Linked DNA regions of Homo sapiens. The protein of the gene in region 1 purifies or fractionates together with the protein of each later gene. This does not show direct contact. Each region holds a gene or a part of one and is shown on either strand. Other genes may lie near its edges.

Evidence for each region.
Region 2: the proteins of BCL6B (region 1) and SULT4A1 purify together in Homo sapiens (affinity purification with mass spectrometry; 3 studies listed by BioGRID and IntAct, with this or other methods). This does not show direct contact.

Annotation. Positions count from the first base shown.
Region 1 is NC_000017.11:7,020,845-7,024,748, reverse strand, and holds the start of BCL6B (B-cell CLL/lymphoma 6 member B protein), read right to left. Parts: upstream 1,700-3,904; 5' UTR 1,650-1,699; intron 1,090-1,649; 5' UTR 1,078-1,089; coding exon 899-1,077; intron 667-898; coding exon 445-666; intron 349-444; coding exon 1-348. UniProt on the Homo sapiens protein: Acts as a sequence-specific transcriptional repressor in association with BCL6. May function in a narrow stage or be related to some events in the early B-cell development.
Region 2 is NC_000022.11:43,827,778-43,831,681, forward strand, and holds part of SULT4A1 (sulfotransferase 4A1), read right to left. Parts: intron 1,422-3,904; coding exon 1,283-1,421; intron 1-1,282. UniProt on the Homo sapiens protein: Atypical sulfotransferase family member with very low affinity for 3'-phospho-5'-adenylyl sulfate (PAPS) and very low catalytic activity towards L-triiodothyronine, thyroxine, estrone, p-nitrophenol, 2-naphthylamine, and 2-beta-naphthol.

The DNA.
Region 1 (3,904 bases):
GGAATGGGTCCTTCTTCACTGCTGCTGCTGCTGCTGCTGCTGCTGCTGGAGGCCTCGTCTCCACTGGGGAGCCTGGCTTGGGGGCAAGGTTGACCAGAACTTCTCTCCCCGACCAGGCTCCCTGCTTGGGAGGCCTGAGAGTTTAGCACGATGTACTTGTACTTTTTCCAGTTGCAGGCCTTGGGGTCAGGGCTGGCTGGACTGGGGGGGCCTTGACTGCAGCTTCGAGATTCAGTAGGTGGGTCTGGGTGTCCTTCGGAGCGCCTGGGACTACCTGGTGGAGGGGCCGTTGGGGGTGTTGGGGGTTCTGCTTCCAGGGGGCGCAGGGAGATGCCCAGAGGTTCATAGCTGGGGAAAGTGTGATGAACGTTAGTGCCATTTCCTAAACTCTGCCTTTGCCCTTAACACCTCACCCACAGAGAACGCCGAGCCAGGGTCCCTCACCTGGCCTGGATGAAGCGGTGGCATGCCTGGACCACGTGCTCCATCTGCAAATAGGTGGCGGCCGCTAGGACTGCTGGTGCAGTGGCTGGAGAGAGGCGCAGGCGCGAAGTGTACATGAAGTCCAATAGAGGGGCGAAGCCTCTCGCTTCGGGACCCCCGGGCAGAGAGAGCACGTCCACCCCGACTCCCGCACGGCCCCGGAAAATTGAATAGAAGAAGCCACTAGAGAGAGAGCAGATAAGTCCTTTGGGGGCTGGGGAACCAAGGGAGACATGCGCAGCTTCAGGAAGCCCCGCCCCCTGAAAAAGTCCCGCCTCCTCACTATCACCCCGCCCCCAATTCTGGGACGCTCCGCCTCCTGCTTCTGAAAGACTTGGCTTCGGATTCCCTCTCAACGGCCCTGTGGTCCCACCCCTTTCCCATTTGGCCCCGCCCCAGGCCCCACCCCTCGAACCTGCAGGCGATGAGAACTGCCTTGTGTGCTCTGAGGGGTTGCCCGCCAACCAGCAGCGTGACGTCAGTGAGGATCCCGCGCAGGCGCAGCTCGTTGAGGTTGCCCAGCACGTCGGAGGAGTGGCGAGTGAACTCGCGGACGTAGCCCAGCGCTCCCTCCGGGGCGGCGGGGGAACCCATAGCGACACAGGCCTGTAGAGGCCGTGGAAAGTGCTCTGGATCCAGGCAGTCCTAAGACGCCTTCCCTCCTCTGTTTGCCTTTTCCTTCCGAGGTGCAACTAGAGCCAGGACTTCCAGCCCCTAGCCCCGGCACACGCAGCCTCCCTCCTAATTCTTCTTGTTCATTCTGCCCTCTACGACACCCTCGCTCCCTTGCCTCTTCCAGATCCCACAGCGCTTGGAGCCAGTTGAAGGTTCCACACCGCGGCGTCGTTGGCGAGCGTGGGGAATCCCGCGCCCATCGCCCTGGGTTCGACCCCCAGTGCCCCTCCAGCACCGCCACTCCCCTCTGCGCGCCTGTGTCTCAGGTGTCCAACCCTGCCTCGAGATCTCACGGCCTGCCGTCCACACACCTCCAAATCCCAGCCGAGGCTCCCTTCCCCGAACTACGGAATTCTGCGACTCCTATCTAGTCCCCAATCCCTAGTTTAGCCCAATTTCTGGGACTCAGGCTCGCTGATGGCAAGCTCCACACAAGCTCCTACCCTCTTGGGGGACCCAGGAGTCTGGCTCCCTCAGTCTCTTGTTCTTACCCCCGTCCTGCAGGGGCCGCGGCTTCTCTTCTTAAGGGGGGCGGGGTCTCTCTCCCCTCTTGGCCTCGGCTCCTTTATCTGGCCGGGATGTCGGGGGCGGGGGTGGAGGTGGGGTGAACGCCTGGGTCTGTATCCTTCCTTCCTCCCTCGCTCTCCAGATGGCGAGTCCAGGGCGGGGTCTCCGTCTCGAGGGCGGGACCTCAGAAACAAGGGGTGGTCGTAACGTAGGGGGTCTTGGGTCACTGCAAGTGGACACGAGGACGGGGATATTGGAATTGGGGAGGAGGTTAGGGATATCGAGGTTGGCAATACGGGAGTCTGAGTCGTCGGAAGGCCTGGGCCAGTGAAAATTGGTGTGTTGGCTTTTGGGAGGGTTTGCCAGGAGCCAACCTTTGCTGCAGGACAAAGTGCATACGGCAACCCCCTCTCCCTCTCTTGTACTGTGTTAAGGGAGAAAAGGGGGAGCCCAACGAGACAGCAGGTTTGGGCAGACGACAGTGGGCTCCCGTAGGGTCTCAGACGGGGAGGGTGTGGTGTGAATGACAGGCTACTCTACCCGGGCCTACAAAAAGGGGGGCTCTGGCCGGGCGGGGTACGGAGAGGGCGGATATGATTTCTAGTTGGTTTCCTTCCATTGTCCTGCGACCGGACGGCTCCGCCAGCTGCTTCCCCTCGAGGAGGTGGGGAAAGCCCCGAGGTGGGGGTGGAGGGGCGAGAGACGCTCGGGAGACCTAGGCGTCCGGCCTCTCTCGCTCCCGACTCTCTTCTGGGTCCTTGTAGGGATCCAGAGAGATGGACTCCCGCCCAAAGCCCGCTTGCTTTCCCCCAATCCCAGCTCACGAGGGCCTCGGGCACCCGCCCGTCGGCTACGCTTGGAGGCTGGCGGGACGCCGGGGTCCAGCGCGGCAAGTAGGCAAGGCTCGGCAATGTGCGGCTCCTTCCACGAGGGGGCGGCCGAGCACTGGCCTCGCCTCGCCCCTCGTCTCCACCCGGCCTGGGGTGCGCTCAGACCCGGGCGCAGGATCCATTTGGTCTGGGCGGCTGAAACCTTTAGCCTCCTCCCCTTTGCGCGGGTTTATTTTGCACCTCTGTCTCCTAGGAGGGGACTAGGGCTGGGCGGAGGGAGCTAGAGTTAGGAGACCGAGGGGACTTTCCCCTCAGGCTGGGGTTCCTACCCGAGGTGAGAAATCGCGGGCTTTAGGAGCCAGGGGAATGGGTGGGACAAGAAGCGGGACCTGAGCCTGGGAACTCCGGGTTTTCTTTTCGAATTAAGCTAGACACTGCTACCCAGATGTCTTTGGAGGTGACTTTTAATTGAACATTAAAATTGGGTGGGGTAAACGAGAAGGGAAAACAAGGAGGAGGGAGAGAGGGCAGGAGGGGGCTTAACCACCCTAATTTGAAGTCCCTGATCTGAGAGATGGGCATGGATCACACCCTCATATTTTGTTTCGGGAGACATTGCGGGCAGGCAAGGCAAAGCTCATTTGGAGAAGGGGTGCTAGAGCTGAATCCAGCTGCAAGGCAGAAGCTCCCCGGATTTGGGCTGGGGAGAGTGTACAGTTGGCCAGGAATGGCCGACCATGGTCCACGGGGCTGGATATCAGGCCCGGGGCCCTCCCCTTCAGACCGGAGTGTGTCTTTATTTGAATGCATGAAAGAACAGCTGAGAAACCGGGAACTGGGAAATTCAGGACGATGAGGTGGCTTTGACATGTGAGGGTTATTTAGGTCTCTGCCCAGCTTGGAGATGAGAATTAGACTAGGGGCTCTCCCTTTGGCATCAGGATGGAGTATTATTTGATCAGTTGTGGGGTGTCTGTTTATTATGGGGTGTTGATTTGATTGTGAGCACCGGTGGCTGCATTCAGCCTTTGAGGCCTATATGGTAAGTTTCAGGTATGGGGCTGACTTGGAAGTTACATTAGTTCTGGGGGTTCTGACACCCACAATTTGGAGATTGTGCTCACCTGTGTCATCTTGGACTATCAGCAGAACCAAAGTACTCATGCTGATTTGGGGGTGCAGTCTATTTTGGGGTGCCATCTAAGTTTCAAGGCTCAGATTAGATTTGGGGAATAAGTTCAATTTGGAGTTTTAAAAATTAGTTTGAGGTGGAACATTATAGGAAGCTGGGAGCAAGTTCGAAGCTTTCTGTGATTGGGGGTCCTGGGAGGGGGGAGCAAACTTTTATATTTGAGTCTTGTGGACACTCACGTTCCACAAAGTGGAAAGACGTGGGGTATTCCTGTGTA
Region 2 (3,904 bases), on another chromosome or scaffold:
CACACGTGAACCAAAAGGGGTATTTTGGAGAAGGTCACATCCAAGGATAACAAAACACAGCAAAAGCAAAACTAAAAAAGAGCAAATAAATGTTAAATAACAAATATTTATGAAAATGCAGCCAGGAAAGAAGTCGAGAGGGACTGTGGTTCAGTTCACTTCCTCCTGAGGAGTCCACTGCTCTGCCTTTATAAGAGACGGCACTTTGCACTTGACCTTCAAACCGCCCTTAGCCGTGATCAGCCCCTTTTCAGAGAAGAACAAAAAGCCGCAGAAGCTGAAGGCCTGACCTATGTTGCGTTCCCAGAGGGCAGCAGAGCTGAGCTGGAGCCCAGCGCGTCTCTCATCCGCCCCAGGCATCTCCCACTCCATCTTGTGGGGCTGCTGCTGAACAGAGCCATCCACGTTTCTGGGCCCTCCCTGCAAACATTCTCAACCCAGGAAGTGCCCAACACACCAAGTGTCCATCAGGTTCATACTTACCAACAGGGGGCCTCCTATGGCCAAGGCCAGCACCCTGGGATTCAGGGGTTTTAGAGCCTGGGCTCTCCATCATCAAAGCCAAATGCCACACACCCTTAAGGACAGGGGGAGCAACCCAGGTGGATCTGGGGAGGATTCCTGTCAGGAACACTGTCCCCATCTCCAGCTGCCTCATGCCCACTGTCACTTGCCGCCAAGAGCAGGAACTGGCCTCCCTCTGTGCAGCGGCTTAGCTTGGTACTGTCTGCTTAAGTTCACCACCCCGAAGTGGGGCTAGGCCTCACCTGTGCTGCCTGCACCCAGAAGATGCTCAGTCAGCGTCCACTCAGTGAAGGAAGAAAAACGGTGTCTCCTAACTTCCCGCCCACTTCATTTAACTCTCCCACAAGTCAGTTAGAGACTGAGAAACCCATCAGCATGCTTTGCGCTTTGACATGTCATAGCACCAAACCCAGTCCCTGGATCTGCTCTGTGGGGCGTTTGATTTCAGGCCATCTGAGTAGACTCCCTGCTGAGAAACATCCCGCCCACAAAGCCTGAAATGCACTTTTTCAAGTCAAAACACTGTTTGCTTGGAGGCAATGCAAACACCAGCGGGCAGGGTACTCCGTCACTCCATGAGCACTGTGCCATCCATGGGCACCAGCTAACAGAGCACAGGCCATGGGCCAGCTACAGACTGCTGTAAAAGGAGAGCAGGGAGGGCAACAGGGACCGGACTCGGCTCCCTAAGCAGGCAGAGAAAGCAGCCTGGCTGGGGTGGGGAGTGCCTGGGCGGGAGGCAGGGTGGGGCACGTACCCCGGCCCACGGGCAGGGCCTCAGCGTTGCAGCACTGGTCCACCAGCTGGTGGCAGTGCTCCGTCAGGGCTTCCAGCTGGGCCTTGTCACAGGACACCCCCAGGAATCTGGCCAGCTGCTCCACCATCGTCACCAGGTCCTGGAAGACAAGTGCAGAGAGCAGAGCAGCCCATCAGAGGCGGGGCCTTTTACTGGACACGACCCCAGGCTGGGCACACGCTGAGGACTTTTTACACACGGCCTTCCTTACTTAATGCTCACAAGGCTGACATCAGCCTTGTCCAGAAATAACACTAAGAGGTTAAGAAATCGCCCAAGTGTGCTCAGCTCTCACGTGGAGATCTTGAATTCAAACCCTGGTCCTCCAGGGAATTGGGTTGCAGACATGAGGTCTTAATAGAGGTGTGGTTAAGTTTTAACAGGAGCAAGAAGTAAAAAACATATTTCAGAACATGGTTCTTGTGAGGAGCAAGACCTAATGGGCTCCTCTTTCCCTTCCTGCTGCCTGTCAGCTGGCGTCTGGGCTGGCCCTTGGGAGCGCAGGGAGGCCCCTCTGGTCTCCAGATGGCCCTGCACTGGGCAGGGAGCCCGCTTCATCACAGGCAAGATTCCGTCATGCCTGCCATACCCTGCCCCATTATTTTACCACGCCTGACAGCGGAATGTCACTGATGTGGCTAACCGTCTTGAGGGGGCCATTCCCCAGCCCCCCACCCCTGCCACTTTCTCCCCAAGAGATGAGGCTCCTCGTCTTCTCAATCACAGCCCTGAGCTGTCACCTAGAGGTGCCTTGGTCCCATTAGGAAGATGCTGGAGGCTGTTTCCTCTCTGGAAGGTTTGTAAAGCAAATTCCCGCATTAAAGCCTCTAAAAAGTCCTACAGTGAAAAGATGATTTAATTTCTTTATTGCAGCACTTCGGAAACCTTAAAAGACAATGTTCTCTGACCGCTGGTGTGGGAGTCAGCTGGTGTGGGCGCCAGCTCCTCCCTGGGTCCCCACAGTGCGCTGACTCCTGCAGCAGCGGTTGCAGGTCTGATTCTGGCCTCGCACTGCCTTCCACAGGCAGGGGTGTGGTGCATCCCGGGCGCAGGGCTTGACTCAAGAGTCAGAGGAACAGTTATTAGAGAATGAGCCAAGGAATACAGAGCTCCCTTTCCCTTGCCCTGCCACCAAGAACTCCATTTCAAAGAAAAAGGGTAGCAATGGAGAAAGAGTGAAGAAACCTGGCTCTCAGAAGAGATGCCGCAAGAAGGACACAGCTGGCTTAAAGTCAGCCTGCTGGAGCGTTCAGCAGAATCCTCGTGGGGCAGCTCACTGCGGCGTGACGTCCATCTCAGAGGAAGGGGCGTTTCTGCCAGGCTACATCCAGCAACATGTCACAGGACACTTGCTGGTTATGAAACCCAGCAGGGATCAGGCAGAACGCCCAGGTCAGCTGGCAGGAACGGCCCACTTCACCTCTCTGAGCCACACATTCCCCATCTGGAACTAGCGACAGGGCCGCAGCAAGAGGCCGCACACCACGGCACGGAGCCAGCGTGTTGGGGTCGTGCCTCCACATGGGCAGGTACTAGCTGGCCACACGGTTGCAGTCAGGGCACCCCGTGACTGGTGAGAACACCCTGCAAGATGACTGAGGATGAAGTGGGAATATACCCGGGGTGCCTGGCACAGTGCCCGGCTCGTGGGAAAGGGCCACTGTAATTGCGGTGCAGTGGAGCGCAGGCAGTGAGCGCTCTGGCAGGAAGCATTCCCTCTCAACCCCAGGGTGAGAACACATGGACCCACACCACAGTCCTGGAGACAACCATGCTCACTCGGGGCTAGTTTTCTGGAGTAAGATGTAAACAATATTAATTCCTAAAAATGTGACTTGACCTCCATTAAAACAAGCCATTACTGAGGTTCCTAAAAAAAGAATAAACCCATGCCAATTAGAAGGCGAAACGCTGACTGTCCCAGGGATGCCATTGAGTCACAGACCGGCTTTGATAGAAAATGAAGTCCCAGCACTGACCCCGGCAGCTCTTAAAGTTCCAGGCAGGGCTGGTGGCCTTGACCCTGACGGACTGAAAGCAACAGGTCTGACCACTTTCACTGGGGAGCCTGGAAGGCAGAGAAGGATGAACTTCCCTTTAAGGGCTTGGAGTAAAGTGTGTGTTTGGACCTTAAAACTTCAGTCCATCATTGCTGAGGAAACTGAAGCTCCAGGAAGAAACTGCTGACCCGGCAGCTGCCCCCGAGATGTGTGGGCAGCTGGCCAGCTGGGCGCTTTCCCTATTCACCTTCTCATGTTGGGGCCTCAGTGGCCCTGGGCAGTGCATGTTCAATGCTATGTCATTGGTGGCAAAATAGTGACCAGCTGACAAATGCACACCCAGGACCCCAGAAATTCCACTCCTGGGTATGGGCCCGATAAGCACAAGTGCTGACGTCCACCAAGACTCCAGAACGTCCACGGAGGCTTTATTCATGACCACCCCAAAGTGAAAATGGCCTCCACGCCCGGCAACACTGGATGGATGAAGCGGTGGCACATTCGTGCTGCAACGGAGCACCGACCACAGCACAGGAAAGAACAGAGCTCCGCGCCACGCAGGTGGAGGAGCCTCGCCATCTGC